Linked DNA regions of Homo sapiens. The protein of the gene in region 1 interacts with the protein of each later gene in a pairwise test. Each region holds a gene or a part of one and is shown on either strand. Other genes may lie near its edges.

Region 1 (7,906 bases):
CTGAAGACAGTTTTGGCTTTTGAAGGGAGTTCTGTTTATATATACGTCAACATCCAGTTGGAGGTGAAAAGGTTAGCACTTGACCCAGGAAGTATCCATGTTTGTTTCAAAAATAAATCTGCTTCATAAATTTCTTCATCAGTCTTTTTTTCCATTATGAGCTTTGATTATAATAAAGGAGCTGTTATTAACTTTTATTCAAGAAAAGGCCCATCTCTTTGAAAATATTTACCACCCTTCTCCCTTTCCCCTCATGAAATGTGCCAACTTCATAGGAATTAACAAATTGTAGCCCAGCCAAATACACGGATGCTTAAGCATACCTGAAACTTGAGTATATTTATTTATTACAGACATCCTAAGACCCGTAAACTCTGCTCTGGATCATATCACTCCAGGATCTCAGAGCTGTTCATGATTGTACAGGAAATGGGGAATATCATAGGCTCACAAAGGATAACTGATAGAACTCAGTGTGGTACTTTGGGGACATCAAACATTGTGCGACATGCAAAAGACTATTCACGAATAACACAAAATATACATTCATTGTGCCATCCATCACATTAACAATTGAGCTGAAAATACATTATATCCAGCTAAGATAACTGTGGAAGGAAGAAATTGGTTTGAATAATACTTTTAGGTTCTGAATAACCCAGCACAAATTTTAAACAGAGGGTGGCCCGAGAAGAAAGGGGTAGAGATTGGGAAAGACTTAGCACAGGAAGCCGGGTTTCTGAAGTTTGTGCTCTGCAGGGCTTCTTAACTGTAAGAACAAATCAAGGCTACCCTCTGAGGCATCTGATTGGGTTTAAATGAGGGAATTTTTTCTTTCACCTATAAAATTGTACCAGTTTAGAGAGTTTGCCCACCCTGTTTTAGTAACCTAAACATTTCTAGAAAATCTGTATAAAGATAAATCTCTTAGGACAAAGTATTTACAACCAGCAAACTCACACACATGAAAATGACTTAAATTAAGGGATGAATTAATTGTGTAAACATATAGTGCATCTCTTCTTCCTGAGCTCCTGGACTCGCCTTTCGCTATATCCTACTTTCAAGGACAAGGGAGGGGAGAGCTGTACATATAGTTAGATAAAAGATGAGAAGATTCCTTCTGGCATGTTTCTGTTGGCAAAGGGAACTATTTTCCAAAAGGTCATCTGAAAGGAACAGTAGGTTCTGTGAATTCTCCTAAAAGCAGGAGGGATGTTAAGGCCCACCAGAAAATGTATGCTGGCACCCAATCTGGATGAAGGTGTTAACCCCGCACCAAGTCTCTGGTCCAGAATTATCTGCAAATATATTATCCTGGCCAGGAGCTCCCCAGATAGGATTAGAAAGGAAGAAAGAGACTGTAAATGGAAAGAAAGATAAGCTAAGCATGTGCTTTGGGTAAGAAGTCCCAGCCCAAGGAGATGCCTGGGCTGTTGTCTGGGGCTGGAGCCGCCTCAGTGGGAGGTAGTCAGAGTGTCTGAGGTAGAAGACCCCGGGGAAGGAACGCAGGGCGAAGAGCTGGACTTCTCTGAGGATTCCTCGGCCTTCTCGTCGTTTCCTGGCGGGGTGGCCGGAGAGATGGGCAAGAGACCCTCCTTCTCACGTTTCTTTTGCTTCATTCGGCGGTTCTGGAACCAGATCTTCACTTGGGTCTCGTTGAGCTGCAGGGATGCAGCGATCTCCACCCTGCGGGCGCGCGTCAGGTACTTGTTGAAGTGGAACTCCTTCTCCAGTTCCGTGAGCTGCTTGGTAGTGAAGTTGGTGCGCACCGCGTTGGGTTGACCCAGGTAGCCGTACTCTCCAACTTTCCCTGGGGCAAAGTGGGAAGCCATGAGACGGAAATGTAAAAATTTTTAAATCGACTTGAGATTCCCCACACGCTTCATGGCAACACTCAGGTAAAGAAAAGATCAAGAACTCAGCACAAATCGGGCTGTGGAGGGTGAGTGATGAGGTGTAAAGTGTTAACCTGATGTAAACCATTAGCATGGTCAGACCGGTGATTAATGGAGCCTCAAGATATTAACAGAACACTACCGTCACAATAACCACCCCCACATACTTCCTATTTCCCAAATGTATAAAATCCTTGAAAACACACCAATCCCTGAGACTTCTTTGCCCCAACACCTCTGGGCACCCTCTCCATGCACTACAACACTAGTCTGATACAAAAGCCTTTTAAAAAAAAGATCATTATTAATTTCCTTGGAAATTAAGCATACCAGCTCCTTCCAGAATAATCAAGGAGCATCCACCAACCAGCAGGACTGACCTGTTTTGGGAGGGTTTCTTTTGACTTTCATCCAGTCAAAAGTCTGCGCTGGAGAAGATGTCTCCGATGCGGGGGAGCGACAGGCTTCTTGGTGGCTGGCGTGGAGAGGGGACAAGGAGTTATTATACGTAGCCAGGGCCAGGCTCTGGTGCTCCTGTCCATATGAGTGGTGAATGTATTGAGGCGAGCCCACCGCGCCCCCAGCATAACCCTGGTGGTGGTGGTGATGCTGGACCATGGGAGATGAGAGATTTCCAGAGTAAACAGCGGGAGCGCACTGGGGGTACCCACCACTTACGTCTGCTTCCTGATTTAACGCGTAGGGGCTGTAAGGCGCACTGAAGTTCTGTGAGCCATAGCTTGGACCACAACTTGAGTGGGAGTAGGACACCCCCAGGTTCCCGGAAGTCTGGTAGGTAGCCGGCTGGGGGTGGCGATGGTGGTGGTGGTGGTGGTGGTGGGGCGAACCGATCTGCACCCCCCTGCCCACTAGGAAGCGGTCGTCGCCGCCGCAACTGTTGGCGCTGACCGCGCACGACTGGAAAGTTGTAATCCTATGGTCCGAGGGGTAGGCTCGGGCTGAGCAGGTCCCCGAGTCGCCACTGCTAAGTATGGGGTATTCCAGGAAGGAGTTCATTCTTGCATTGTCCATCTGTCACTGAGTGACCTGGTCCTGCGAAGCCCGGCGTGACTGTGCCAACTTTCTCACTTCCTCCATGGGGCCGGAGAAGAAAAATGATATGAATGTACAGTGCGCAAGAGGGGGGGCGGGAGGGCGGAGGACGCTGGAGGAGGGGCACGTGACGGTGTCAGCCAATGGCTGAGCCTCCTGCAAAAGTTTGCCGGCTTCCGCAGTGATGGATCACCGTTTTAGTGGCATTTAAATCCCCGGCGCTCCGCCGTCTAGGTGACGCGCAGTCGCCCCCCCAGGCAGCCTAGGCGGCGGCAGCTGCTGCGGCGACTGCAAAGGCCGATTTGGAGTGCTGGAGCGAAGAAGAGCAAAAGCTGCGTTCTGCGCGCGCCCGACTCCGCTGCCCGCCCCGCCAGGCCTCCGGGAGGTGGGGGCTGGGAGGCGTCCCCCGCTCCCGCCCCCTCCCCACCGTTCAATGAAAGATGAACTGGCGAGAGGTGAGAAGGGAAGAGGGCTCCCGGCTCTCTCGGGGCGGGAATCAGTGGGCCAGAGCTCGCCGGGTGGCCGCAAGTACGCCGGCCCAGCCCGCAGCGCGCCCAGCCGGAAGGCGGGGAATCCGGCTGACACCGCGCCCCGGGTTCCCAGGCCACCTCCTCTGTTCTGAGGCTGGGCTGGGAGACCGTGGGGCTGTGAGGAGCGCATAGAACCGTGGTGGAGGGCGAGGCTGGGCCACCGGCTCTTCAAGCTCGGAATGGAGGGGGAAGAGCGCAGAGGGCTGGCTGGGAGGAACTCGGGTGGGCGTGAAGGAGACGAGGGCAAGAAAAGAAACTTCCCTTCTTCCAGGAGGGTCTTCGAAACCCTCTCCCCACAGCCCCTCTCGTCATTAGCATGGCAATGAGGAGTTTCTGTAATTCGACTTGGAGGGGCGGATGAGCCCTGGAAACTCAGAGCTCGCCGGAAAAGGCCGGGGGCGGCCGGGCTCTTCTTCCCCACCTTCCCTCTCTCGTCGCTCTCCGCCCCTTTCTCTTTCCCACTCAGTTTTGCACCGGGAGCCCTCCGGGATGCGGAGCTACTCGACCGCCGGATTTTTAGGGGTAGGAGGCGGGGGAGAGAGATGACGCTGGCGGACGTGGCCAGCGCGGGGGCCGGGCGGTGCGCTGCAGGCCATCTGCCGGCGCCCTGAGACCCAGGAGCCTCCGCGCTCCCGCGTGGGCCTCACAGGGCCGGTCCACAGCTCCAACATAGTAGCTGAACTCCCTTCGTTGCGTTCCTCTTTTTCTGGAGGGGAATGTTAGAAGAGAGAGAGAGCTTCCTTTTATAACCTTCCTCATTCTGCTGCACGTCTAGAGTGGGTGTGGGGGCTGGCAGGTGGGAGGGGCGGTGGACAAATGGCTGATGGTGGACGGGACACTTTACCCCAACGACACCTCCTCCCCTTTCCAACTGGCTGTGTAGTTGCTTATGAGAACCTTCAAGTCCTTCCCTAGAGAGACACATGCAAATCTGAGCCTCATCCCAGGCCAGGGGTCCTGTTCCTCATCACCCTACTTCCCTGAGGCTGCTGAGGTCGTTAAATTGTTGTTTACTATTAGGTTTCACGTCAACCCTGGGCTTGTAGAGAGAAAAAGCCAAACGGAGACCAAGAATTGATGCAGTCTTGGGTAGGAGAAATCGAGAGCTTGTCCAGGAAGCTTTGCTGTATAAATTATAAGCAATGCTGTATAAATTTTACTCCAACCATGTGTACAATGTTGGAATCAGATGAAATTTATAGTGAATGAATGTATGTGGGTTTGGGGTTTCCACTCCTCTTCAGCCTTTCCTCCCGTTAGAACAAGGAAGGTTTTTTTTTTTTCAAGGAAGGTACATTTCAAATATGTTAGTCACCCTTTCAGTCTTCTGTATTCTGTTCTCCACGTACCGAAGTTCCCCCAAACCTGTCCTCTCAAGAGAAAAAACCCATGCTGACTCTGGACTCCCTCAGTAACAATGAAACATTCTCCCCAAACATTTCCTTTCAGAATAGTATTTGTGACTTTGATCCATCCCAAGCATGGTTAAGAGGGAGCACGGGCAGGAAAGGCCCACTTTCTGGGGTTGGGCAGCCACCCCTGCCCCAGTTTCGGCTCCTGGGAATCCTCCGACTGGAGAAGGGGAAAGGCAAGGCAGTCCTCCTGGAGGCGGCTTCCTTGGGAGCACCAGCTTCCAGCGGCGGGGAGAGAAGGAGCTCCTGTGGGAGAGGGGGCAGGATGTGAGTAGGTCGGTGCTGGCTATGCGAGCAATCCTCCCTCCAAGCCTGAGCAAGTCGGTACATTTTCCCCCGCTGCCTCATTCCTGTACCTTGGTTGCCCTCCTCAGCCTGGGTTTGCAGGACCCCCTCGGCTGCAGGGCGCCTGCCACAAAGCCGACCCCGGCAGGAGCCACTCTCTCTGCTAGTTCGCTGCCTCGGCCCTGCTCTCCCTCAGCCTCTCTTCTTCTCTCCTGGCCTCTTTTCTGGGGCATCCTGGGTGGAGTGTTTTTCTTGGGATCACGAGCTTGCACTCGCACACAGGCCCGCAGACACACAGGCCCGGCGGCCGCCCTTCTCCGCTTACTGTTCCCGGCTCCCCGCAGGCCGGGTGCTCGCAGCCGGGCTGGCTATGCCTCGCCTGGCAGCCCAGAGCGCCGCTCCCCGGGAACAGCACACAAAGGCAGCCTCCCCTGGCCTCTAGCCCTTAGGCTTCTGTAGCTCAGTTCTTTCCCCACACCCCTCCCCCAAGAAATTCTGGGGGCCGTTCCACCGAGTAGGAGATCCTTGGCCCTCTAGGCAAGTAGGTCAGCGCCCCAAGACTGGAGCTGGTCTCTTTCAACGCCTTGGGAGACTGGGTGAAAGGCGAGCTTGGTTACGCTTAAAATGATCGCCTACAAGCGGTTCTCTTGGCTCAAAACGCCTCTTTCAGGGCTCTTATGCTAGAAAGGAAAGGAATAAGGAGGAGATAAAATGACGCCGAGGCCCTGAACTGTTCATGGCATCCGCGGCTCAGCCAAGCTGTTGTTTTAAAAGAGCAATAAAAATGAATTATGACTAAACGCCTTCTAACTTAATGCTTTCGGACGGGGATCCCCGGCAAATAACGTAAGAGGATTTTTATTTGTGCATGTGTTCCTGCAATTGATCTCTTTGATGACATTCTCATTCATAGAAAGCGTTTGATTTATGAGCGTAGGACGAATCGCATCCAGGAGCTGCGCAGCCCTGGCCGCTGCCGGGACGCCCTGCTCCGCGCTGAGCTTGGGGCCAGAAACCAGCCATAGTCCCCACACTCCGCCGCCGCAGCTGAGATTTAGCGGAGGAAGGGGCGAGGGAAGGTAGGGAGCAAACCTATGAAGAAACATCGCGTTGTCATTGGAACTTCCAAGCCTTTGCTGTTAAGAGCCAGGTTCTTAAATCAACCCGCCCCACACACATGTTGCTTACATGCTGCGTTTTCTCACGGTAAGTAAGTAGGCATCAGAAGAGAGCTCAGAAAGGGAAAAATAAACATGGGGAGACCTAACAAGGGAGGGGGGAAAAGCAACAACCCAGTGACACACCCTAGATCACATTTTATTGATATTTCATTTAAAGTGCTTTTCTCTCTCTCTAGAACCTGCGTTAATTTATAACCTAGGGTGTAGAAACACACCATTTTAAATCTCAACTTGCTAACCTGACTTCGAAGCATTAACGATCTATTATTAGCAATGTAAACAGGTTTAAGAATGAAATATTGATTTTTCTGACCCTGAAAAAAAAAAAAAAATCCTAGAGTGACTGAACCAGAGGATTGGAAAGAACATTTTCTAGGGTGCATTTTCCAGATAGTAATCACTGTTTTGTTTTATTTTTGTTTTTCTCTATCTTTTAGGTCTGTTTTGCCTGAACCCATCAACAGCTGGGAGATTAATCAACCACACTGAAAATGTGGAGGGATTTATGGGGGAGGGGGTTGAAATGTGGGTGTTTGAAACAAAAGTGTATAAACAAATGAATTGTTGATAACTTAGTTATTGACCTGGAGACTGGTAGCTTATTAAAGAAACTCCGTGTTACTCATTCCTGGAGTTGGGGGTTTCTGTAGGCACTTTATTTCTCCACTTTCAAGAGCTTGGGCTTGGCCCAAATCTTAGACTGTCCAATTCTGCCTCTATTACCAATTTAAATCTATGGCTTGAACCTGTGCACTGAAAATCAAATCCTTTAAAAAGAAAGAGGAGAAGAAGAAGCAAAAAAGAAAGAAAAAACACTTATTAGAAGCCCTAGTCATTTTTTGGCTTTCTGTTTTGTTGCTGTCCATTGAAGACTTTGAACATGCCGCCTTAATAAATGTATTAAAATTGAAAAAAGAGGATAAATTGTGACGAATTTTATTTACGAAGTTAGACTAAAAGAAGAAAAAGAACCCGTTATGAGCCTTGAAAAAAGAGGGGGAGAAAAATAAGCTACTTATAGCAAAGGAGAATTTATTCTACAAAAAATATGCATGACAATGCATCCCAATGTAATACAAAAATAAAAAGAAAGTGAAGATACAATTATATGATCACTTTCTTGCAGGCCTCATACTGCTCTCAGGAATCACATAAAGGGTTGTTGAGTTAGGTTTAAAACAACTAAAACTCCAAAATAATCTGTAAAAGATGGCTCTGTTTGAAACTGGGTCAGGGAATCACTAAACAGAAAATCCTCAACACTTAAAGGAGGGAAGGGGTAGGTCAAGAAGAAAATAAAAAATAAACTCCCAAATAAAAGAAGGCAAAACCACCTGGTCAAAGGAGTTTTTGTTTGGTGATGCTTTGTTTTGCTTTAATGTTTTTAGTAATTCAGATGCTGCAAGTCGATTGTGGTGAGTGTGTCTGTAAAAAAGTCTAAGCTGTCAGCTGAAATATCTACGGGACTGTCGAGGGAACCTGGCAAACTGGGTGAAACTGCATCTGAAAGCTGCAGGCAGGAATCTGTGGAGAAAACGCTAAAGTCC
Region 2 (7,415 bases), on another chromosome or scaffold:
CGGTACCTCCGCCATCATGGACAGTGACCTGCTGAAACTCAACCAGCTCAAGGTGAGGCTGGGCTGCAGGAGGGGCTGGGTGGGGTGGGGTGGGGCAGGAAGGGGCAGAGGCCAGGGGACCACCCAGCAGGCTCCTGTGGTTCCCTCGGGTGGAGTTGGGGGGTAAGCAGCCAGAACACCCTCTGCCCAGGAAGTCTGTGGGAAGAGTGAGGGTCTGGGGTGTGGGAGGTGTCTGGCAGTTGAGTCTCCCTTCTGCCCCCCAGTTCCGGAAGAAGAAGCTCCGATTTGGCCGGAGCCGGATCCACGAGTGGGGTCTGTTTGCCATGGAACCCATTGCTGCTGACGAGATGGTCATCGAATACGTGGGTCAGAACATCCGTCAGGTGAGGCTGCACTCCCAGCCCCGCCCCGGCTTCTGATGCAACAAGACAGCATGGGGGCTCACACACATGCTGTTTGTCCGGTTAAAGCCTTGCACACTCCCTAACCCCGGTACCTAGCCAGTGAGACCAGCCTCCCTCCGGTGTGGTCAGCAGGTGTCAGTGGTCCAGCAGGAGGCATGGCTGATGGCACTGCTCCCTTTCTTTTTTTGTTTTGAGACATAGTCTCTCTCTGTTGCCAGGCTGTAGTGCAGTGGTGCGATCTTGGCACACTGCAACCTCTGCCTCCTGGGTTCAAGCGATTCTCCTGCCTCAGCCTCCCGAGTAGCTGGGACTACAGGCGTGTGCCACCATGCCCAGCTAATTTTTGTATTTTTAGTAGAAATGGGGTTTCACCATGTTGGCCAGGATGGTCTTGATCTCCTGATCTTGTGTTCTGCCTGCCTTGGCCACTCACAAGTGCTGGGATTAACAGGCGTGAGCCATCGCATCCAGCCAAGCGCTGCTCCCTTTCAAAGGGCCTGGGAAGCGGGAGGACAGGCACTGAACAAGTATCCACACAGAAGGATGGTGTTCCAGCCTGAGCAATATTGCCAGACCCCGTTTCTGCAAAAAATACAAAAGCTAGCCGGGCGTGGGGGTACATGGCTGTGGTCCCAGCTACCCAGGAGGCTGAGGTGGGAGGATCACTCGAGACCACGAGGTGGAGGCTGCTGTGAGCCAAGATTGCACCACTGCACTCCAGCCTGGGCAACAGGGTGAGACCGTGTCTCTAGAAAAAACAAAAGCCAAAAGGATGGCATTTGGTATTAACAAGATCTTAACAAGATCTGGGGAGTTGGGCTATGGGAACACACACCTGGGGGGCCTAAGACCTTCCAGAGACCATGGTGCTTGAGTAAAGCTGAAAGGAGCTCGCAGGCCCAGACAAGTGGTAGTGTGTGTGCGCTTGGTTGCGAGACACCATGTGCACAAACCTGGAGGCACGGTCGTCTTGTGAGAGTGTGGAGGTCAGCTTGGCTCATTAGAAACCAGGGCCATGGCCAGGCGCGGTGGCTCATGCCTGTAATCCGAGCACTTTGGGAGGCTGAGGCAGGCAGATCACCTGAGGTCAGGAGTTCGAGACCAGCCTGGCCAGCATGCTAAAACCCCGTCTCTACTAAAAATACAAAAATTAGCCAGGCGTGGTGGCAGGCGCCTGTAATCCCAGCTACTAGGGAGGCTGAGGCAGGAGAATCGCTTGGACCTGGGAGGCAGAGGTTGCAGTGAGCCAAGATCGCGCCATTGCACTCCAGCCTGGGCGACAGAGCAAGACTCCGTCTCAAAAAAAAAAAAAAGAAAAGAAAAAACAGGGTCAGTGGCAGCGACGTGTGGCTGGAGGGAACAGAGAGCCCAGACCGCACGGGCTTGGGAGCCTGTGAATCCACTTGGGCCTGTGGTGAGAGAGGAGGAAAGTCCCGGAGCTTTCTTCAGGAGAGGGTCCTTCCGCAGGAGAGGGTCCTTCCGCAGGAGAGGGCCCCATGGCTAGTGAGCTCCATGTCTAGGCTGACACCAGTATCCAGGCAAAGGCAAGGGTGGCCCGACCCAAGCAGTGGCAGCAGAGGTGACAGAGAGGAGGCTTTGGGTGCAAGGTGGTTGGCTGGGCTCAGCAGTGAGAGGGTGAGGGGGACGGGAGGCCCTCTCTCGGTGCTGCTCTTAGCTGCTGGGAGTATGATGGGAGGGCCAGTGAGATGGGTGTGAGGAGGAAGAACAAATATATGGTCAAGATGAGCTCCAGTCTGGACATGTGGGGTTGCAATGCCCCAGGGACATCTAGGGGATGACGCCCAGCAGCTCCACTGAGGTGGCTTTTGGCTGGAAATGGAAGTTTGGGAGGAGTCCCCACCACATAGCTGGCGGCTGAGGCTCTGGAAGGGAGTGAGGTCACCCGAGGAGGGCGTGCAGAGGCTCCTCACTGTCTTCTGGGAAGTAAGGGTTGCTCCTCACACGGAGGTGCGGGGCCTGACATGGGCGGCCTGCCATTTGCATTAGCCGGTGGCAGCCAACAGGTGCCTGTTTTGGAGAGAGGTCCAGGGAGGAGAGATGAGCAGGGTGCCGTTGGTGACATGGCCAGTCATTTCAGGAGCTGCCCCAACCCCAGACTTGCCCCAGCAGTCCGGGACCCCACTGTGACCAGGCAGATGCTCGAAGGAGTCAGTGGCTCTCTTACCCAGTGCAGATTTCCCTGGAGTTCCCTGCGGGTGACTTAGAATGGCCACCAGAGGCTTAGGATGCTGCCCCAAAGAGGGAGGGCTCCTGGAAGCAGAGTCGAGAGAGTCAGTGCCGGGTTAGCGGGAGCTGGAGGCAGAGCTGCAGCTCCAGGCCTGGTGGGCGTGGACCTGGGGTGCTGGCTGGCAGGCGTGCTCAGGGGCAGGAAGTGGGGGACTCTTCCCTGACCATCGCATCTCACCCTGGCAGATGGTGGCCGACATGCGGGAGAAGCGCTACGTGCAGGAGGGCATTGGCAGCAGCTACCTGTTCCGGGTGGACCACGACACCATCATCGATGCCACCAAGTGTGGCAACCTGGCCAGATTCATCAACCACTGCTGCACGGTGCGCCAGGGGCCAGCCGGGGCAGGAGTTGGGGGTCGGTGGGGGTGGCCACGGCTCACACGCCCTTCCATCCGCAGCCTAACTGCTACGCCAAGGTCATCACCATCGAGTCCCAGAAGAAGATCGTGATCTACTCCAAGCAGCCCATTGGCGTGGACGAGGAGATCACCTACGACTACAAGTTCCCACTGGAAGACAACAAGATCCCGTGTCTGTGTGGCACAGAGAGCTGCCGGGGCTCCCTAAACTGAGGTGGGGCAGGATGGGTGCCCACACCCCTATTTATTCCCCCTGGTGCCCTGAGCTCCCAGCACCCCCCCAGCCTTAGTGGGCTCAGCAGGGCCCACATGCCCCCATCTCCAAGCGTGGGGTTGGGGGCCCCAAGCCCAGCGAGGGAGCCTCAGTCCCTGGAGGCAGCTTCTGCCTCTCCTGTCACCCCTGCCCACCACCCCCTGATTGTTTTTCTTTGCGGAGAAGAAGCTGTAAATGTTTTGTAGCAGCCAGCAGCTGTTTCCTGTGGAAACCTGGGGTGCCGGCCTGTACAGATTCTGTCCTGGGGGGCTACACAGTCCTCTTGCTTTGTGTTAATGGGGACTTCCCCTTACGCCCTGCGTGTACCCCTCCCCAGTTTAGGGGTCTCTGGGGCAGTGGCCATGTTCTCCCCCTGGGGGGGCTCTGCACCCCCAGTCCTGGGGACTCCGTGCCTGGAACCCTGCCTCATCTGTTCCTGCCAGACCCTGAGGGTCACCCTTCCACCCTGGTGTCACTCCCCGGCTCAGCCAGGCCAGGATGGCGGGGTGGGTCCCTTTTGCTGGGCTGGACTGTACATATGTTAATAGCGCAAACCCGACGCCACATTTTTATAATTGTGATTAAACTTTATTGTACAAAAGTGTTTGGTCGGTGTATTTGGGCAGGAGCGAGGGGTTGGGGGTAGAGGGCACGGAGGGTTGTGCAAGTTGAAGAGAGGGAAAAGTGGGTACCTGAAGTGTGGGGCAGGTAAAGGGGCCTTCAGGCAAGAGCCCAGACCTGCAGAGACAGTCCGAGACTGTCTCGGACCCCCTGACAGGCTGCAGCAGCCGCACCCGCACCAGGAATACCCCACCAGTGCCCGCCAGGGTGGTGCCAAGGTCAGGCCTCCCCTTCCTACAATCACAGCTGCAGCTGGACCTCCGGCCTCCTGGGAAGCCCAGCAGGAGGGAAGGCCTGAGGTCACACTGTGGGATGAGGTCACCGCTGGCTCCACCCACAGCCCCAGACCCCTTCAGCCCACTCTGCAAGTTCGAGCTTCATCCCCACCAAGTTCTCCGCTGGACCCAGATGCCAGTGGAGCACAGAGCGGCCGCCAGGGGGCGCCTTGGGGCAAGAGTGGTGGGGGTTGTGGCTGGGCGGGTCTCTGTTCCTGGAATGGGGCAGGAGGGAGAAGGAGGAGCCAGCGGAAGGACGGTGTGCGGGCCGGCCAGCCCTGGACGAAAGAAGAGGGCCCCTCCAGGCCAGTCTGGGCACCCTGGGATAGCGGCTGCAGGTAGGCAGAGGCGCTGCCAGTGCCCAGGTGGCCTTTCCCTCCATCCGGCCCTTCCCACCTTCCTATAACCTTCCCTCCACCTCCCTCAACTCCTGGCCTCCCCACCCTTTTACTGCCTTCAAATCTCTCTCCCTAAACCCTGACCCCTTCCTGCACCCCAAGCCCGCCCCTCTCTCCGTAACTCAGCCATCAGCAGGGGCAGACGGCAGGTGGCCTGGTTGCTGCAGCTCCCAGGATCAGCTCTGCCCTCCCCGCAAACGCCAGCCTCGTCACCGCTCCAGGGCACCTCCAGCAGTAACAGGTGGTTGCAGCAGGTGGCAGCCAGCCCCTGGATGAGCCAAGGTCTCTTCCCCAGCCAGGCATGGCCGACTCTGCACAGGCCCAGAAGCTGGTGTACCTGGTCACAGGGGGCTGTGGCTTCCTGGGAGAGCACGTGGTGCGAATGCTGCTGCAGCGGGAGCCCCGGCTCGGGGAGCTGCGGGTCTTTGACCAACACCTGGGTCCCTGGCTGGAGGAGCTGAAGACAGGTTCTTGTTGGGGGAGCTTGTGGTGGAGAGGGTGTGGACGCTTCCCCAACCCTTCCCAAGCTGGGATCCCCACCCCTGCAGTGGAACAGATGATGCTGGTTTCTGTCCACATGGATGGGTCGAGTGAGTCACATTGGGAACGTGACTCCAGGGTGGAAGATGAACCCAGCCTCTGGCCTCTGGCCCCAGCTCTGACATGGCCTGTGTCCTCCAACCCCGGCCAGGGCCTGTGAGGGTGACTGCCATCCAGGGGGACGTGACCCAGGCCCATGAGGTGGCAGCAGCTGTGGCCGGAGCCCATGTGGTCATCCACACGGCTGGGCTGGTAGACGTGTTTGGCAGGGCCAGTCCCAAGACCATCCATGAGGTCAACGTGCAGGGTGAGGAGCTCTGGACACTCCTGGCCATCTTGCCTGTTTGTTCCCCACTCTGTCTTTGGCCTTGACCTCCGGTGACTCCCCTGGGACAAGTTGTCCTATTGACAGCCCTGCCCCCGCCTCCCCTGACCTGTCATGGTTTTCCCTGGACCTGGGATGGGGAGGAGGAAGATGCAGAGAGGGAAGAAGCTGCAGCTTGGATACGCCTCCTCCTCTGCCAGGTACCCGGAACGTGATCGAGGCTTGTGTGCAGACCGGAACACGGTTCCTGGTCTACACCAGCAGCATGGAAGTTGTGGGGCCTAACACCAAAGGTCACCCCTTCTACAGGTGAGTGGCAGGCCCTCTTGTCCTCTAAGAGCCCATTTCCCTCAGCATTGAGTCTTCCTTCTCCTCCCACCAGGGGCAACGAAGACACCCCATACGAAGCAGTGCACAGGCACCCCTATCCTTGCAGCAAGGCCCTGGCCGAGTGGCTGGTCCTGGAGGCCAACGGGAGGAAGGTGAGCCCAGAAAAAGGAGGCGCAGAGATGGGGCTCCTGCCCTGCACACCCCCTTACCCTGCCAGCCCAAGGAGGCCGGGGCCGAGAGCAAGCTGTCGGGTCCCAGGTCTCAGCAGTACCTGCCTTTGCCACCAGGTCCGTGGGGGGCTGCCCCTGGTGACGTGTGCCCTTCGTCCCACGGGCATCTACGGTGAAGGCCACCAGATCATGAGGGACTTCTACCGCCAGGGCCTGCGCCTGGGAGGTTGGCTCTTCCGGGCCATCCCGGCCTCTGTGGAGCATGGCCGGGTCTATGTGGGTGAGGACTGGGCTAGGCAGGGGGAGGCTGAGAATATGGCAGGAGGACTTGCTCTAGAAGGGGGCAGGACCCACATGGCCCTGGGAGAGAAGTGTGGACTCTGGCTAGAAAAATATGGTCTATACATGGGCCAAGGTAGACTGTGATTATGTCTCCACAGCCTGCAGAGAATACAGGATCCATGCAAGTTGGGACATTAAAAAGTGTATCATAGGCTACAGAGAAGATTGCAGCTATGGGAGCAGCCATTCCCCAGGAGAGGAGAGGAGAGGGACAGTGTGTACACAGCACTAAAAGGGCTGGGTTCAGTGGCTCGCATCTATAATCCCAGCACTTTAGGAGGCTGAGGCGGGAGGATGGCCTGAGCCCAGGAGTTGGAGGCTGCAGTGAGCTATGACCGCACCACTGCACTCCAGCCTGGATGACAGAGACAGACCCTGTCTCTAAAACTTTTTTTAAAGGAAGTAGCATCTACACAGGGAATAAGGTCACCTGCCACTCCATCCTGCAGTCCCCAAGCCTCTCAGGGCCCACCACGCAGGTCCTGGTTTCTCTATCCTCTCCCCAGGTTCTTTGCAGATGCAGGCTGGCCCAGGAGAGCAAGTGACTACCAGGGCGAGGGAGAAGGCAGCCTTTCCCAGGCTGCTGTGGGGATGTGGGCGGCAACTACCTGGGCCCAAAGAGGGGGTGGCCCAGGAGAGCAGCCTCGATGTGGTGTTGCAAGGGCACTCAGGGGTGTGTCCGCCTCTCTTCCGCCACCGGCAGGCAATGTTGCCTGGATGCACGTGCTGGCAGCCCGGGAGCTGGAGCAGCGGGCAACCCTGATGGGCGGCCAGGTATACTTCTGCTACGATGGATCACCCTACAGGAGCTACGAGGATTTCAACATGGAGTTCCTGGGCCCCTGCGGACTGCGGCTGGTGGGCGCCCGCCCATTGCTGCCCTACTGGCTGCTGGTGTTCCTGGCTGCCCTCAATGCCCTGCTGCAGTGGCTGCTGCGGCCACTGGTGCTCTACGCACCCCTGCTGAACCCCTACACGCTGGCCGTGGCCAACACCACCTTCACCGTCAGCACCGACAAGGCTCAGCGCCATTTCGGCTATGAGCCCCTGTTCTCGTGGGAGGATAGCCGGACCCGTACCATTCTCTGGGTACAGGCCGCTACGGGTTCAGCCCAGTGACGGTGGGGCTGGGGCCTGGAGGCCCAGAT
Region 3 (7,019 bases), on another chromosome or scaffold:
GGGCACCTATAATCCCAGCTACTTGGGAGGCTGAGGCAGGACAATCACTTGAACCCAGGATGCGGAGGTTGCAGTGAGCTGAGATTGTGCCACTGCACTCCAGCCTGAGTGACAGAACTAGACTTCATCTCAAAAAAAAAAAAAGGTATCTTATTTAAAATAAAAATCTTATTTTATTATAAGATACATATTTTATTTTAAATTATATAACATAAAATGTACACATTAGATATGTAGTATACATTATATTACATACAAAATGATATGTATTCTTCTAAACAGTTTTTGCTTTATTTTACATGGCAGTAAAAAATATCAGTAGTCTTTTAAAAGGCTGTTATATATTTAATTATCCCAGTGAAGAATTATTAGGTTTTCTCCCAACTTTTCACTCTCAAAATGGGGTGAAAATTTTGTATGTGAATGTGGGAAAAAGTACAAAAGGTGAAACTGCTGACTTTGAGGGATACAAACATTTTGAAAGAAAGTGTCTTTTAAAAAGTTTATAACATTTTCTCCACTCTTTCTTAACTCTTCTCAATACTTTTGCTGATATGAGGCACCATCAATCCCACATTATCATCAATAAAAAATTGACATCCCATTGTTTTAATTTCTATCTCCTTATCCATTTGGTGATTATTATATATTTTTTATATATTTATTAGACAATTCATTTTCTTATGTAAATTTCCTTTATTTGCTCTTTGCCCATTTCCTTCCCTGCAGAATCGTTTTCCTTTCTTATTTATTTTAAGGAGCTCTTTGTGTATTAGATATATTAACAATTTTATTTGGCAAATATGTTCTCCCAAGGACCTTTAGAAGGTATTGGATGCCTGTGAAGTCCCTTCTCTTTCTTATTGTGCATGGCTCATCCCCTCTGTTGTCCTCTTGTTTTCTATTAATATTTGCCCCTTTGCCTAGTTTATTTTCTGCCCATTTGCATCACTACTAAACTAGAAGAGAGTGAGGGACATAGAATTAAATATTTGAACAGGGCTTGTGACAACTTTAATTTAGTTGAAAGGAACTGAAAACTTAATGTGTGTACAGGATTTTGTGGGAGCGTTCTGTCTTTTCAAATTTTTCATGGGGTAACATTTCCTTCTGAGCCTTGAATAATGACTGACTGTGTATTCCAGTGAAAACACAGAACTCACTGACAAACCAGCTAATGAAATGTAAAAAATGCAGTCTGTCATTTGGATGCTCCAATGATCAAATGTTTTGATAACTGACTACATATTTTATTTTTTAATGCAGATGTTCAGCATTCTATAAATATGGATTCTTAATGACTTGGGACAAAAATATTAGAATGTATGAACAACTGAAGAATGGAATGAGTGGCTGCAGAGCAAGAGTTTGAAATTAATATTAATTCACATACAAAAATAAACGATAGGTATTTTTAGCTATATATATAAAATATATACATATAGCCACATTACTAGTCAAATTTATGGTCAGTTTCCAATGTTTGAAATATTGCCGTGACATTCCAAACCATAATGTTTTCTTTAAACAGATGCTGTGCTAAATTATTTTTTTCATACCATAAAAACAAAAATCCATAAAGAGTGCTCATTAATTCACATGGAAAGGCCTGGGGCTGAAAGATAGGTCAAAGTAACACAATCTCAGGGAAAGAAAAACAGTCTGAAAATGTCATATTTTTCAGGAAGGCATTTGTATTGCTAGTTCTTGGAGCTGTGTAAAGGAAAGAGAAATAAATGCTTAATAATATTTTTAGAAACAATAAATTCCTATGTCAATCCCCCCAATTCTCACCAAATAAAAATTACTCTCATCTTTTTCCTCCTATTATGTGTCTTACATAGACTCTGTCCAGTCATTCATATCTTTCCTTAGTGTTTTTATTTTATTCAGGCTAAATCGATAGACTGTTCTTGGTACTGAACTAATTTTAATGTGAATAGATTACTGTTGGGTATAGTCATTGACAACCATTGAAAATCTTGTTTATGGTAATCACTGAGACAAGAAAATTTAAAACTCTCTTCTTTACACAATTAAATTCCTGGAAATATATGTTCTTAAACTTATTCTTAAAATTATATTATCAAGAATAAAGACATGGTACCATTGTTTAGGGAGTAGATTACCCTGCACTTTATAATATTAAAATATTTATTTCCAAAGATAATTGTTTATTTTCATTGGTAAACAGTTTTACGGAAAAACTACATACATATTGTTATCTTTCTTTGTTTTGTTTGCTCTTAAATAATATCAAAACAAATATTTCTATATTAGCTTAATGTTGAGTTATAAGGTTAGGTGTGATGGATTCCATCACATTCAAAAGTTTATATCTTTAATATAAAGTTTAAATCATATTTTAAAAGTTTTATAACTTTAATGCCTCATGCTTTTGGCAAGTTGTAATTCAGGAAGGCAGAAAAATCAATTTTAATATGAAAAACCAAAGTATTTGACAGCCAAGATAATAAGCATTTATGCAAACTGAAAATTACTTGCCCGCCAAAATAACCATTTATGAAGATTTAAGAAAATGTAGAAAATGTTATGACTGTTTATAGGTTAGAATTAGTTGCATCTACCTTGAATCCATAGTATATATTTTTAGCTTATTGTTGCTTTTTAAAAATCTATGACATAGCAACTATATTTAAAATAGTTTATACTATAATGGGCATATTTATTATGGTTATAGTTAATAACCATATATAATGAGATAGACTTAAATCATGTGTTGGAAACTTAAGTTATTCCAGTTATACTGTCATAATAAACATTTATTTTTCCTCCATGTCTTCTATATATCATTCATCTGTTTCTGTTTTCTGGGCTAGGCTTAGAATGAGAGCCAACAAAACCTGGGACTCAGTCTGTCTTCTCAATAAAATTATTGGTACCACTGGTGGTCATACGTGTCTTCATTGGTTCTTGATATACTCTTCTTTGGCAATGATTATACTTTAGTTTTGGGGCATATGTGACTAACTAGCGGCATTTAATAACAAAAAGATAACATCTCATAATGTTACATTACAATCAGTCCTTCCACTAATTTAAATTCAGATTCATTTCCCTTATTTAAGAAAAGAAAATTTGTTTGGAAGTACCAAGAGGGAACAGAAGTGGCCATTTCATAGTGCTTCATGATTTAAAAAATATCAGAAAACTTAACATACCTTGTGTACTTAGCATCTGTTTATCAGAAATACTAGTGGTTACTAATTAATTAACTGATTGAACAAGTAAAGTCTATTCATTATACACTTTTGTAAAAAGAGGATTTCATTTGGAGAAAAATTTCTACTCTGACATGGTTGAGAGAAATAGGATAATCTTGGGCGACATCAAATTAAGTGTAACTAGTTTGTAGTGGCTGATTTAACATATGACATAGACATTAACTCTGGGTATATTATGGGCTTTAGTGTAGGGTCGCTAGAAGGATGTGATAGATGCATGTGTAAAAACTGTTTTAAACGTATGCTTTACATGTTCTAATTCTATGAATATGCTGGATGTGTCTAGACAAGAAATTTTAACTATAACCATAATTGTGAGACAAAGCTAAAAGTAAGACAAAGCTAACCAGAGCCATGTGGGGAAGGCAAGAGCCTCAAGGACTTGTTTAGACAGTTGCTTCCAGGGGAAAAAAAGAAAAAAAAAAGTGCAGTCTTCAGTCCAAGACCTGTCAATCCAGTTTTTAAAGATTGATTAGGTAGTTGAGTTTTTCTTCCTTTTATCCTTGGAGAAAATGAAAAATAATACTTTCTCTTCTACTTTAGACTCACCATTCATATATTTTATGACAGTTTGGTCTCACCTGAGCCTTTCTTCTCTAGGACAAATTATGCTAACTCTTTCTGTCTGTCCTCATAGGTCCTATTTTTCAACCACTAAATCCTCTTATTGTTCTTTCTTGTATCTTTTCCAGTTTCTTCAGTCCCTTTAAAATTTTAAAGTCTTAAATTTAATATATTTGCATATATTTATTTTTGATGAGTTAGAACTTCAGGAGCGTTATTTCTTTCTGCTAAGTGAGAGAGTGGTCACTATGACAGGTAGATTGGAGAAAGGAGATAAGAAGAAAAAGAGGAGCGAGATGAGCAACTTAATATTCAAGTTAATCGATTTATATGATCAGAAATAGCAAAACGTGTATCTGGAAAATGTCACAAAGGTTTTTAATAAGTCCTTTGGAAGATACCAAAACACAAAAAAATTATTATCAGAAATAACCAGAGCTACTTAAAAAATCTTTTAAAAATATTTTTTTATCTTTTATAAAAGGTAAAAGATATCTTTATGCTTATTTTTACTAATTACCCTTCTGTAAAGGAAAAGATTAGTAGGTGAGCTCCAAATTCAGAGCAAAAAATAATAGAGAAAGATGGCCATTGCCAACTCAAGAAAAGGCATAGGAATTCAGCATAAGAGTGAGCTTATCTTAATTAGGGGCTAGAACCACTTTTTCCAGCAGATATTAATGACAGAACATTTGTGGAATGTGGCCTAGTAAAGAATTATTTTTTCCTTTTTGGTAGTACATGGTCATAAGGCAAAGTGCGCTATTGGCTTTGTTGATGCGCTATCTTGGGTTTATAGCATTGCATTGTCTTCTCTGCAGCATCATGTTGATTTTGGGTGATTAGGATATTATAGTTGGTTCAACCTCTCCATTCCATGAGGGACAAAAAGGAACCTATAATGTCGTAAATAAAACAAGTTGCTCTCTATAGCAGTTACTGTGAGAGCACAGTTCCACTGTAATAAAAACCTACAATAAAGGCCCTAAACTTTTTAATCTTTATTACTTCAATTTAAGTGCAATGCTAATTTTATTTAATATTTCTTGAATTTTATATTTAACTTTAAACCTAAGGTCTTATCTACATTCAAAACAAAATACCTGGCATTTACCCTACCCTATATCCTGGGTCATACACCACAAAATGGGGTGAACTGCTTCATTGGCTCTACAAAAGAGAGGAATGCAGTCACTACAAAAGGATGGTACTGTGTTCTTTCCAATATACTCCTTTTAAATCAACACGAAATAATAGGGATCACAACGAAGTCAGCTTACAACAGCTTTAATTCCCCAGATGGAAAGCTGCACAATAAACCCACTGCAGGTTTATTTTCACTTTAAGATGGGATAAAAATATACATCCGCCATGCCCATATTGAAAAGCCACAGGCAGATCTTAGAGGGGTCTTGCATTGAATGGTATGCAGTAGTGAAATATTTGTATTTTGTGCGAACCCCTCTTCAAAAGCTAATGCAGTGTGGTCTTACCATTTTTGCAGACAGGACAACATTGTTCTGGTTCATAGACTGGGTTGACACACTCAGGAACTGCGCAGTCTGCTACAACACAGTGAACTTCATTGCTGGGCTCACAGCGACACCATTCACATGGAGAGGGCTAGGAACAAATCTAAAATTAGCCCCTTTTCTCCTATAACTTAATGCTTGCACATTCATATGCTGTCAGAAGACAAAACATCAGTGCTTATTATATTGGCTTTACTGTATTAATTCCATTTACCATGTCTACGATCATTCTCCCTTGGTGGAAGGCAAGTTAGACACCCAAGTCACAGTGGATTACAACCTGCACTCAGGTTGCTGTGAACAAGAAAAGCACCCGTGTATGACTTTTCCTATATCTTATGTTCCTACTTTCCAGAGAAATATTTGCATAACTAATATGTCATCTCCTGGTTTGTTTTCCAGATGTACTGATTGCTCTGACCTCCTCTCGTAAACAGGCATTCTACTGGAACGTGTAAGATAATTTTTGCCATCTGTCATTTTCTTCTTCTTGAGAAAGGAGGAGAATTACTGAGAAACAAGAAAATGGTAAGTGGACATCTGTACCCTTTGTATGAACTCTTTTTCAAGCCAACTTAGACTCTAAATGGCATTTTTTTTTTCAATGTGAATATTAGAGAAGATTGCATTTGGGAACCAAACATCCAGGTACTGCCTCTTGAAAGATGTAGTGAATACCTTTCATCTTGCCTGCTTGCTTTTATGAATGAACAAATCGACTGGCCTAAAAAGCCACTATTTAAGAGTCAAAAACTCTAAAAATGGAACTAAAAATGATAATTAAGAGAAAAAAATTAAACATCAGAAAAGAACATTTGTCTTTGCAGTACTTACCGGCCGAGAGTGTTTAGAATTTTCTATTTCCTTTCTAGAAACTGCCTATGGCACAAATAATCTAAAGCAGGGGCCACCCTCTGACTTTCTCATCCTTTGTAAGTTCTAGCTCTACTTTTCTCATGGAACAGCAGTTTAAAATTCTGGAATGAAAATTTGGTGGTGTCAGAAGTCATACAATGTCCACATTTCTCAAATCAAGCCATTTGTTCTTAGAAAGCTCTGCCTCCAATCTGAAGCCACAGATTCTTACCTGCAAACTGTGCTAATTAAAGCCCTCTTCCCTTGTTTCAGTGACTACTGTCCAAAACCCTTGTCAGCTCTTATTTCTTCCCTGGATCTGACAATCTGTGTAATATCAGTGCTTCTCAACTCAGACAGTCTATAGTGGAAACCCTTCAACTAATTATTTTAAAAATTCATTTTGTCTTTGCTTTTTGCTTGGAGAATGACAGCCTAACTTTAAATTACTTTGCTTTCAAATTTAGTATGAACAAAACAATTAGCCATGGGATCTGTGGTAAAGTATGGCTATTTGTTAACATGATCAATGGCATTTTTGAAGGGTACAGTTAAACTCTTTACCATGTGGTGAGTTGTGTTTAAACATTTCAGAGAAATCTATTGCATTCTCAAGGGTTGAGATTTTTCTGATGCTTTTCTGCTAAATAATCTCAGCAAATTAAGAAAAAGATTAGAACGTACAGTACATTATTTAATGGAGAAAATTAGCAAATAAGAGATGGAAACTCTTGTTGCTCTTTTGCTCCTTATTTTGCAAACCTCATCGTGATATCTAAAATTCCCAAGCAGACTTGTCGAACTTTCCCCTTTCCTTGGTTAA
Region 4 (7,971 bases), on another chromosome or scaffold:
GCAGGGGGTGCTCTGTGATGAAAACCAGGGGCAGGAGTAGTTATGGGAGATGGACCCTGACGGACTACTGAGGCCAGATCAATGAGAGCTGCCTCCTGTTTTGGGAGCCCACAGAGCCTGGGTGCTGGGAGCTCCTGGGATGCTCACCTCATACTCATTGTAATGTACGTAGATGCACAGCTCAAATTGTTTGCCATCCTCAAAGGGCACGTAGTCTGTTGTCTCCTCCAACATCCATATCCCAAACTCACGCCTGTTCATGACCACATGATTGCCAAAGTGCACTCGGAAACGGAAGGCAATATCTGAATCCTCATCCATGTCAGTGTAGAAATCCACCTGCAGCTGTGGGTCATTGCTGAGGGTGAAGCACGCAGAATGTTGGGCAGGTCCCTCCCTTGCGCAGACACACACTCGACACACACACAAATCCCTTCCCCCATTTACCTAGGGAAAAAGTCTCCCAGATAATACTGATGGCCAGGTCCCTGTGGGGATGCTTCAGCTCCTCATGCCCCCAGGCAGGGAGATTCTGTGCTCCTCATCCCCAGATGAAAACTGAGCCACAGTCACTGACCTGGGCCTATGACTTGTTCATTCCCGAAAATTCTATGCCCCCTGATAAAGAGCCACAGCCCCAACCCACTGAGTGTTCTCCTCCTGTAGGCCCCATGGCTGGCCCACATGCAGTTGCTGTGGGTCTCATGCCTGGTGCTGGAGGGTCTCCAAGACCTGCACCTGCATGGGGCCTCCATTCTGCCAACTAGACATTTCCACATCACCCACATGTAAGGTCAAATCTTCGCAAATATTCTCCCTTCTTCTCCAACCCCTCCATTGGACCATGGAGTACTCACATAAAAGAGTGGATTGGTGTCCCTTTGATTATCACGCAGGAACCAACAGACAAAGACACAGGCAGTTTGTATGGCACCTGCCAGAGTATTGAGAGTAAGTGAGAGGTGCAGGGTCAGGTGCAGTCTCCCCTCCTGTAACATATTCTCATGGTGCAGGAGGTTGGAGATGAAAGGGCAGACTCTGTGGACTCTCCTCTTTAACCCTACCGCATTCAGGGCCCCATATTCCTGAAGATATGGCGGACCCATAAGTTAGAGCAAGGGTTCAGGAGCCAGGATGCCTGGATTCCAGTCCTCATTCTGCCTTTTACTAGCAGTGCAGTCTTAGATTTGCTACTTGAACTCTCCCTCATTTTCCCTAGGACAACGAGGATTATCAGGAATTTCTACTTTGTAGGATGTTCTCCGTAATAGGGAGTTAATACATGTAAAAGTGTTACCCTAATCCCTGTCATGCGTAGGGCCTCTTAGGGTGACCTAACAGGACAGGAGAGTCCTCTTGAAAGACTGACCTGCCTTCATTTTCAACTCTGAAAATTAAAACAAGACTTGTAAATGTAAGAATTTAAACATTCACTCCAGTGAGAAACAACACTTGTTGAAAGGGAGAGGGAAATGATGAAAGAACAGGAAACCCCTGTGTGTGGGATGCACATGCATCACTATCATCAAGGGCCATGGACATCCTTCCAAGAAGGGGCACACACTACTGAGAGCACAGCCCCAGTACTTGCACAAATGAAGCTTGTGGGTCAGGGACATAACTGGAGGGAATGATTGATTTCTATGATGACTACAAGTAGATGAGATGATTTTTCTGTACTTTTGAGATAGGTTCTTGCTCTGTCACCCAGGCTGACATGCAGGGATGCAATCATGGTTCACTGAAACCTCAGACTCCTGGGCTGCAGTGAATCTCACACATCTGCTCCCTCTTGAATAGCTGGGAAGAAAGGTACCTGCCTCTCTGCCAGTCAAATATTTAAAGTTTTTTAAAGAAAGGGTCTCACTCTGATACCCAGACTGGTCTCAAACTTCTGGCCTCGTTATCCTCTCATCTTTGCCTCCAAAATTGGTGGGATTATAGCCATAAGCCAGTGAACCCAGCTGCTTGGTTGATTAATATCCACTGTAAGCTCCTTCTGAACTGAGACTTAACTTGTTCTTTCATGGGTGTAGAACAAGTTTAGTCTCAGTTCAGACAGAGCTTACAGTGGATATTTTGTGTGATTCAGTCTCTGAAATCACGGCCTCTAATGTCCTTCCCTAACAAACCAGTATCTGCACACCCTCCTGTCACACAGTGGGAAGAACTGGATGGGCTAGGGACAGGCAAGCTGAGCCTGGGAGGCAAGAGACAGTGGTCACTCTGTGCAGACCCCACCTGAGGAACCATCACCCCCATAGTCTGCATTCCTCTTCCCCACTCTTACTGGGAAGAGACATCTACTGATCATACATTCTGCTCTCACAAGTGATCTGAAATAAGTCCTTGGTAACTCACAATCCCCAAGATCCCCACCAGTTAAGCCACATGGGATTCACATCAGAGGTGCTGCTGTGTGGGGAGAAACATTCACATGTGAAGAAAGCCACATGCATGATCCCACTTCAACATACAGTCACATCCCAGCACACACACTCACAGTCACACAGAGCCACACCACTCACTGCGTCACACACACCTGCTCACTGTGCACATAACGATGCTCATGCACTGGTCTGGCTGTGCTCACACACATACTCACATCATAGACAGGAAACAAAGCCGACTCACCCCTTTACTCTCCATTCACACACCTGCTCGTCCTGGTGGGTAATCCACCTCCCACTTAAAGTCACATTATCTCCGCAGAGTTTATGCTCATCAGACACCACCTCACACTCACCGAAGGTTACACTGGTCCAGGGTCCACACCGCAATCCCCACAAGCATCTCAGATACCATAGCCTCAGGGTTTCTATTCCACACCTCAATAGCTCTAAGTAAAGCATTCACAGCAAAAATGCTCATATTTTCATCTCATAAAATCTCCCATTTCTTTCTTGGTTTGTGTGACACGAAATTTTTGAAGGCTGTGCCTTTTCAACTCACGGGTAAAGAAGACATTGTTCTCTCCTTCTTGGCGACCTTCAGAATTGAGTCCAGTCTTCTGAGTGAATCTCTGAGTTGCAGCATTTAAATGACCCACTTCAGCCTTGCCCTCGGGCTTCATTCCAGATTCCAAGCTCCTCCCAGCAAGATTTCCTTGCAGCTTTAGACAGGTTTAGTTGTTAGGAAGAAACTCAGTCACAACCATAGCTATTTGCAGGTCTGTATCTGTAATGCAGCAGAAGTGACAGTGGGGGAGTTACCAGGCTGTGGATTGGGTTACCAGGGAAATGCATAGATAAAGATGATGGAGTGAGCGGTAGTGGTTGTAAAGCCCAGCCTTTATGCCTCTCAAGCCTTTTCTCATCTATGCAGAATATACCCAGAAAGTGTACATTTTCCCAATTTGTACAACGGCTGAAAAGAAAAAAGTTGGAGATTTTGGGGAAATACATTAGCCCTAGAAGGTAATGATTCTCTCTGCTTTTGAACGTTCTGGGAGAGCACTGACCTTGATCCTCAGGAGGATCTGTGGAGAGAAGCAGAGAAATTTCTTGCATGAACCTATTCCACACTAGGCTGCTTGGCTCTGCCAGGTAAGGGCCACTCTCACCTGACTGTCACACACCTGGGCTCTAGCTACACCCTCTCCTTTCTCTTGGTGTCCATGTAAATAAAAGTTTCAGAGACACTGTTTCTCCTGCAGATTCTGGGAGGAAGGTGAGATTGTTGTTTTTATTTGATTTTTCTTTCATTTTATTTTAGGTTCGGGGTACATATGCAGATAAAGTCGTGTCATGGGATTTGTGGTGTATATGATTTCTTCACCTGGTTACTAAGTGTAGTACTCAAAAGTTATTTTTTTTCTCCTCTTCCACCTTTCATCCTCCACCCTCAAGGAGGCCCCAGTGTGTGTTGTTTCCCTCTTGATGTCCATGAGCCTCCTCATTTAGTTCACGCTGATAAGTGAGAACATGCAGTATTTGGTTTTCTGTTCCTGCATTAGTTTGCTAAGAATAATGGCCTCCAGTTCCATCCATGTTCCTGCAAAAGACATAATATCATTCTTTTTTAGGACTGCATAGTATTTCATTGTGTACATGTACCACATTTTCTGTAACCGATCTGTCATTGATTGGCATTTGGGTTCATTCTGTGTCTTCGCTATTGTGCATAGTGTTGCAATGAACATTCATGTGCATATGTCTTTATGGCAGAATGATTTCTTTTCTTCTGGGTATACACCCAGTGATGGGATTGCTGGGTTGAATGGTAGATCTATTGTTAGCTCTTTGAGGAATCACCACACTGCTTTCCACAATGGGTGAACTAATTTACACTGTCACCAACAATGTGTGAGTTCTCCCTTTTCTCCACAACCTTGAAGCATCTGTCCTTTTTTGACTTTTTAATAACAGCCATTCTGACTGGTGTGAGATGGTATCTCACTGTGGTTTTGATTTGCATTTCTCTAATGTTCAGTGATATTGAGCTTTTTTATATGTTTTTTGGCCACCTGTATCCTTACTTTTGAAAAGTGTCTGTTCGTGTCCTTTGCTCAACTTTTTTGTTGTTGTTTTAAAACAGGTCTCACTCTGACATTCAGGCTGGAGTGATGTGGCACCATCTTGGCTCACTGTAACCTCTGGCTCCGGGGCTCAGGTGATTTTTCTAAGCTCAGTCTCCTGAGTAGCTGGGACTACAGGTGCATGTCTCCATGCTAGGCTATTTTTTTTTTCTATTTTTAGTAGAGATGGGTTTTTGCCATGTTACCCAGCCTGTTCTCAAATTCCTGGGCTCAAGTGATCCACCAGCCTTGGTTGCCCAAAGCGCTGGGATTACAGGCATGAGCCACTGTGTCAAGCTCTTTACCCACTTTTTTATGGGTTTGTTTGTTTCTTTCTCGTGAAGTTGTTGAAATTTCTTATAAATGCTCGGATATTAGACCTTCTTCAGATACATAGTTTGAGAACATTTTCTCCCATTCCTTAGGCTGTCTGTTTACTCTCTTGATAGTTTCCTTCACTGTACAGAAGCTCTTTAGTTTAATTAGATTCTGTTTGTCAATTTTTGCTTTTCTCCTAATTGCCTTTGACATCTTCATCATGAAATTTTTCTCATGCCTATGTCCCACATGGTATTGTCTAGGTTGTCTTCCAGGATGTTTATAGTTTTGGGTTTAATCTTTTAAGTCTTTAATCTATCTTTTGTATATGGTGTAAAGAAGGGGTCCAGTTTCAATCTTCTGCATATGGCTAGCCAGTTCTCCCAGCACCATTTCTTGAATAGGGAGTCCTTTTTCCATTGCTTGTTTGGTCAGCTTTGTTGAAGACCAGATGGTTGTAGGTTTGTGGCCTTATTTAGGGCTTTCCATTCTGTTCCATTGGTCTGTGTGTCTCTTTTCATACCGATACCATGCTGTTTTGGTTACTGTAGCCTTGTAGTATATTTTGAAGTTGGGTAATTTGATGCCTCCAGTTTTGTTCTTTTCACTTAGAATTGCCCCGGTTATTTGGCATTTTTTTGGTTCCATTTAAATTTTAAAATAATATTTCTTCTAATTCTGTGAAGAATGTCATTCATAGTTTGAGACAAATAGCCTTGCATCTAAATTTCTTTGGGCAGTATGGCTGTCTTAATGATAATTGGTTTTTCTTATCTATGAGCATGGAATGTTTTTCTATTTCTTTGTGTCATCTCTGGTTTCCTTGAGTAGTGTTTTGTAATTCTCATTGTAACGATCTTTTACCTCCCTGATTAGCTGTATTTTTAGGTGTTTTATTCTTTTTATGGCAAATTTGAATGGAATTGCATTCTTGATTTGTCCCTGTCGCTGTTGTTGGCATATAGGAGTTCTAGTGATTTTTGCATATTGATTTTGTATCCTGAAACTTTGCTAAAGTGGTTTACCAGCTTAAGGATCTTTCGGGTGAAGACTATGGAGTTTTCTAGATATAGAATCATGACATCTGCAAACAGGGATGGTTTGACCTCTCTTTGTATTTAGATACCCTTTCTTCTTTTCTCTTGCGTGATTGCTCTGGTCAGGCCTTCCAATATTATGTTAAATAGAAGTGAGGAGAGAGGGCACTGAAGAAATTGTGGTTTGAAAATCCAAGTTGAATTTCTGTTTTAGTCATCATGGAGGTTTTGTCTATGGTCTAGCAAATACAAAAGAAAACAAAACAAAATTCCTCTCTTACTCTGTCGTATTGGCTCCTCACTTTCAAATACAGGGCCTAATGCACCAATGCTCAGCACCACGGACAGCACCACAAGTGAAACAGCTTTGAGGGACAAGGACAATATTATCACCAAATAGATTTATTCCTTGGGAGGCTTCAACAAAAACTAAAAAGCCTAAATACCTTTGAGAATGAAAGCTTTAGAGTCCAAGTACGACTTTCTGTGTTTTGAGCATGCCGTATTTGCTGGGAGAAGATAGGGAATTTTGGTTGAGGAGTATGAAAATGATGTTGAGTAGGTCCCCAGAGGCAATTCAAAAATTCTTTGTTAAACATTGGCTCCTGAATTCTATGTCATCTCTTTGTGTCTGAGATGTCATCCTGGCCACCATGAGCAAAACGTATTACCTGAGATAAAAATGAGTGTAACAAATGGCCCATGTGAACAGAAATGAGCTGGTGAATGTCAGCCAAGAAATGGGAGTCACTGTGTGTGTTGCAAGGCCAGCATGTAGGACTCTGTAGGCCACTCAAATAAAATGGGTGTCATCCAGAGGCAAGCAGATATGAAATCAAACTCATGTTCTGCTCAGGAAGTCATAGATTCCAGGATAGTCTTCATCCTCTCAGAGAAAGAATTGCCTAAATCCCCAACAAATGAATTCCATGCTGGTGATGGAGCCTATAATCCACTATCAAAATACAGAATTGACCAGGACTGTGACAGGGATGGTGTAAGGAGGAGAGTGTACCTAATCAGAACCTGAGAGTTTCCAATGAGAGGGGAGGAAATTTCATTTTATACTGGAAAGAAACAAGGAAGAAAGGCATGAAGAGCATAATTCACTGTGCATTGATACCTCAAGGTATCCAGATGTTAGGTTAAAGAAGCAGTACAGAGAAAGGCATACCCATGAGTAAGGTTGGAGTTGAACAAGCTGTGGCAATGAACCTGGGGAGAGAGGATGACGATGATCAAAATGATGCCTGAGATTGGCCCAGCAGAAAAAAGGCTATTTGATGAGACTCTCTTCAATCATCCTTCGTTGACTTTTAGGAAATATGTTGTTTATCTTCTCCTAAATGGTTCTCTATATGCACTATGAAGTAGATAATCAAAACTCTTGTAGTGGAAAAAGGACTGTCATTCTGCCATCTTGGTAGGAGTTCCAAGAAGCTAAGAATGGAGGATGAAGCCAATTGCTGCAGGGAAACGTTCCCAGAGAAAATGAAAAAAGAGATCTTGTTGGTTTCCTCAGTGATATGGACCGTGACTGTGGTCTATTTTCTTTTCTGTACTTGTTTGTTTGTTTGTTTGAATTTTAAATTTATGTACAAAGAGCTAACACGGTTTCTTTCGTTGTGTGGATGCCTTGGTTATCCATTCAAAGAAGACCTCTTAGTCCAACTTAATGAAATGTATGTTTTTAAAGTACTTATGGAAACACTGGGGGCACACATTGAGGTAGTATTTCCGGAACAGACTATGCTGGTTTGAGCAGATGCGACAAGAGTGAGAACCCAGGCTGAATTTTCATAAGTGGCTCTAGTAGAGCTGCTGGTGACCCCTCTTGCTTCTCAGAGTGCTATGAGGCAAAAGGTGCCATTTGTTATCTTTTGCCCCTCTAAAATAGTTGTGTTAACTGCATTTTCCTTTGTCTGTTTCAGTCTTGTGTGATTGATTTGTATAGGGCAAATATGTATCCCTTTGGTGCATATTTTGAGAGAAAGTGCACCTGACAGTTTGTAGTCTCCTCATGGACATCTGAGAGTAATTGGATGATAAGATGCTGGACTTCAATCTGAGCTGCCTCCTGTAATTGTATTGCTTTCAGTA

Evidence for each region.
Region 2: the proteins of HOXA1 (region 1) and HSD3B7 interact in binary tests that used the Homo sapiens proteins (3 or more experiments, as listed by UniProt).
Region 3: the proteins of HOXA1 (region 1) and VWC2L interact in binary tests that used the Homo sapiens proteins (3 or more experiments, as listed by UniProt).
Region 4: the proteins of HOXA1 (region 1) and LGALS13 interact in binary tests that used the Homo sapiens proteins (3 or more experiments, as listed by UniProt).

Annotation. Positions count from the first base shown.
Region 1 is NC_000007.14:27,092,983-27,100,888, forward strand, and holds HOXA1 (homeobox protein Hox-A1), read right to left. Parts: upstream 3,019-7,906; 5' UTR 2,931-3,018; coding exon 2,279-2,930; intron 1,814-2,278; coding exon 1,458-1,813; 3' UTR 11-1,457; downstream 1-10. Other genes in the region: HOXA2 (homeobox protein Hox-A2), read right to left, coding at 7,744-7,906. UniProt on the Homo sapiens protein: Sequence-specific transcription factor. Regulates multiple developmental processes including brainstem, inner and outer ear, abducens nerve and cardiovascular development and morphogenesis as well as cognition and behavior.
Region 2 is NC_000016.10:30,980,798-30,988,212, forward strand, and holds the start of HSD3B7 (3 beta-hydroxysteroid dehydrogenase type 7), read left to right. Parts: upstream 1-4,409; 5' UTR 4,410-4,500; intron 4,501-4,662; exon of another isoform or gene 4,663-4,855; 5' UTR 4,856-4,861; coding exon 4,862-5,027; intron 5,028-5,251; coding exon 5,252-5,407; intron 5,408-5,625; coding exon 5,626-5,734; intron 5,735-5,807; coding exon 5,808-5,907; intron 5,908-6,042; coding exon 6,043-6,205; intron 6,206-6,970; coding exon 6,971-7,386; 3' UTR 7,387-7,415. Other genes in the region: histone-lysine N-methyltransferase SETD1A, read left to right, coding at 1-52, 264-383, 2,838-2,975, 3,053-3,226. UniProt on the Homo sapiens protein: The 3-beta-HSD enzymatic system plays a crucial role in the biosynthesis of all classes of hormonal steroids. HSD VII is active against four 7-alpha-hydroxylated sterols. Does not metabolize several different C(19/21) steroids as substrates.
Region 3 is NC_000002.12:214,435,042-214,442,060, reverse strand, and holds part of VWC2L (von Willebrand factor C domain-containing protein 2-like isoform 1 precursor), read right to left. Parts: intron 5,433-7,019; coding exon 5,303-5,432; intron 1-5,302.
Region 4 is NC_000019.10:39,597,565-39,605,535, reverse strand, and holds the start of LGALS13 (galactoside-binding soluble lectin 13), read right to left. Parts: upstream 3,013-7,971; 5' UTR 2,968-3,012; coding exon 2,953-2,967; exon of another isoform or gene 1,620-2,952; coding exon of another isoform or gene 1,512-1,619; intron 935-1,511; coding exon 858-934; intron 359-857; coding exon 148-358; intron 1-147. UniProt on the Homo sapiens protein: Binds beta-galactoside and lactose. Strong inducer of T-cell apoptosis. Has hemagglutinating activity towards chicken erythrocytes.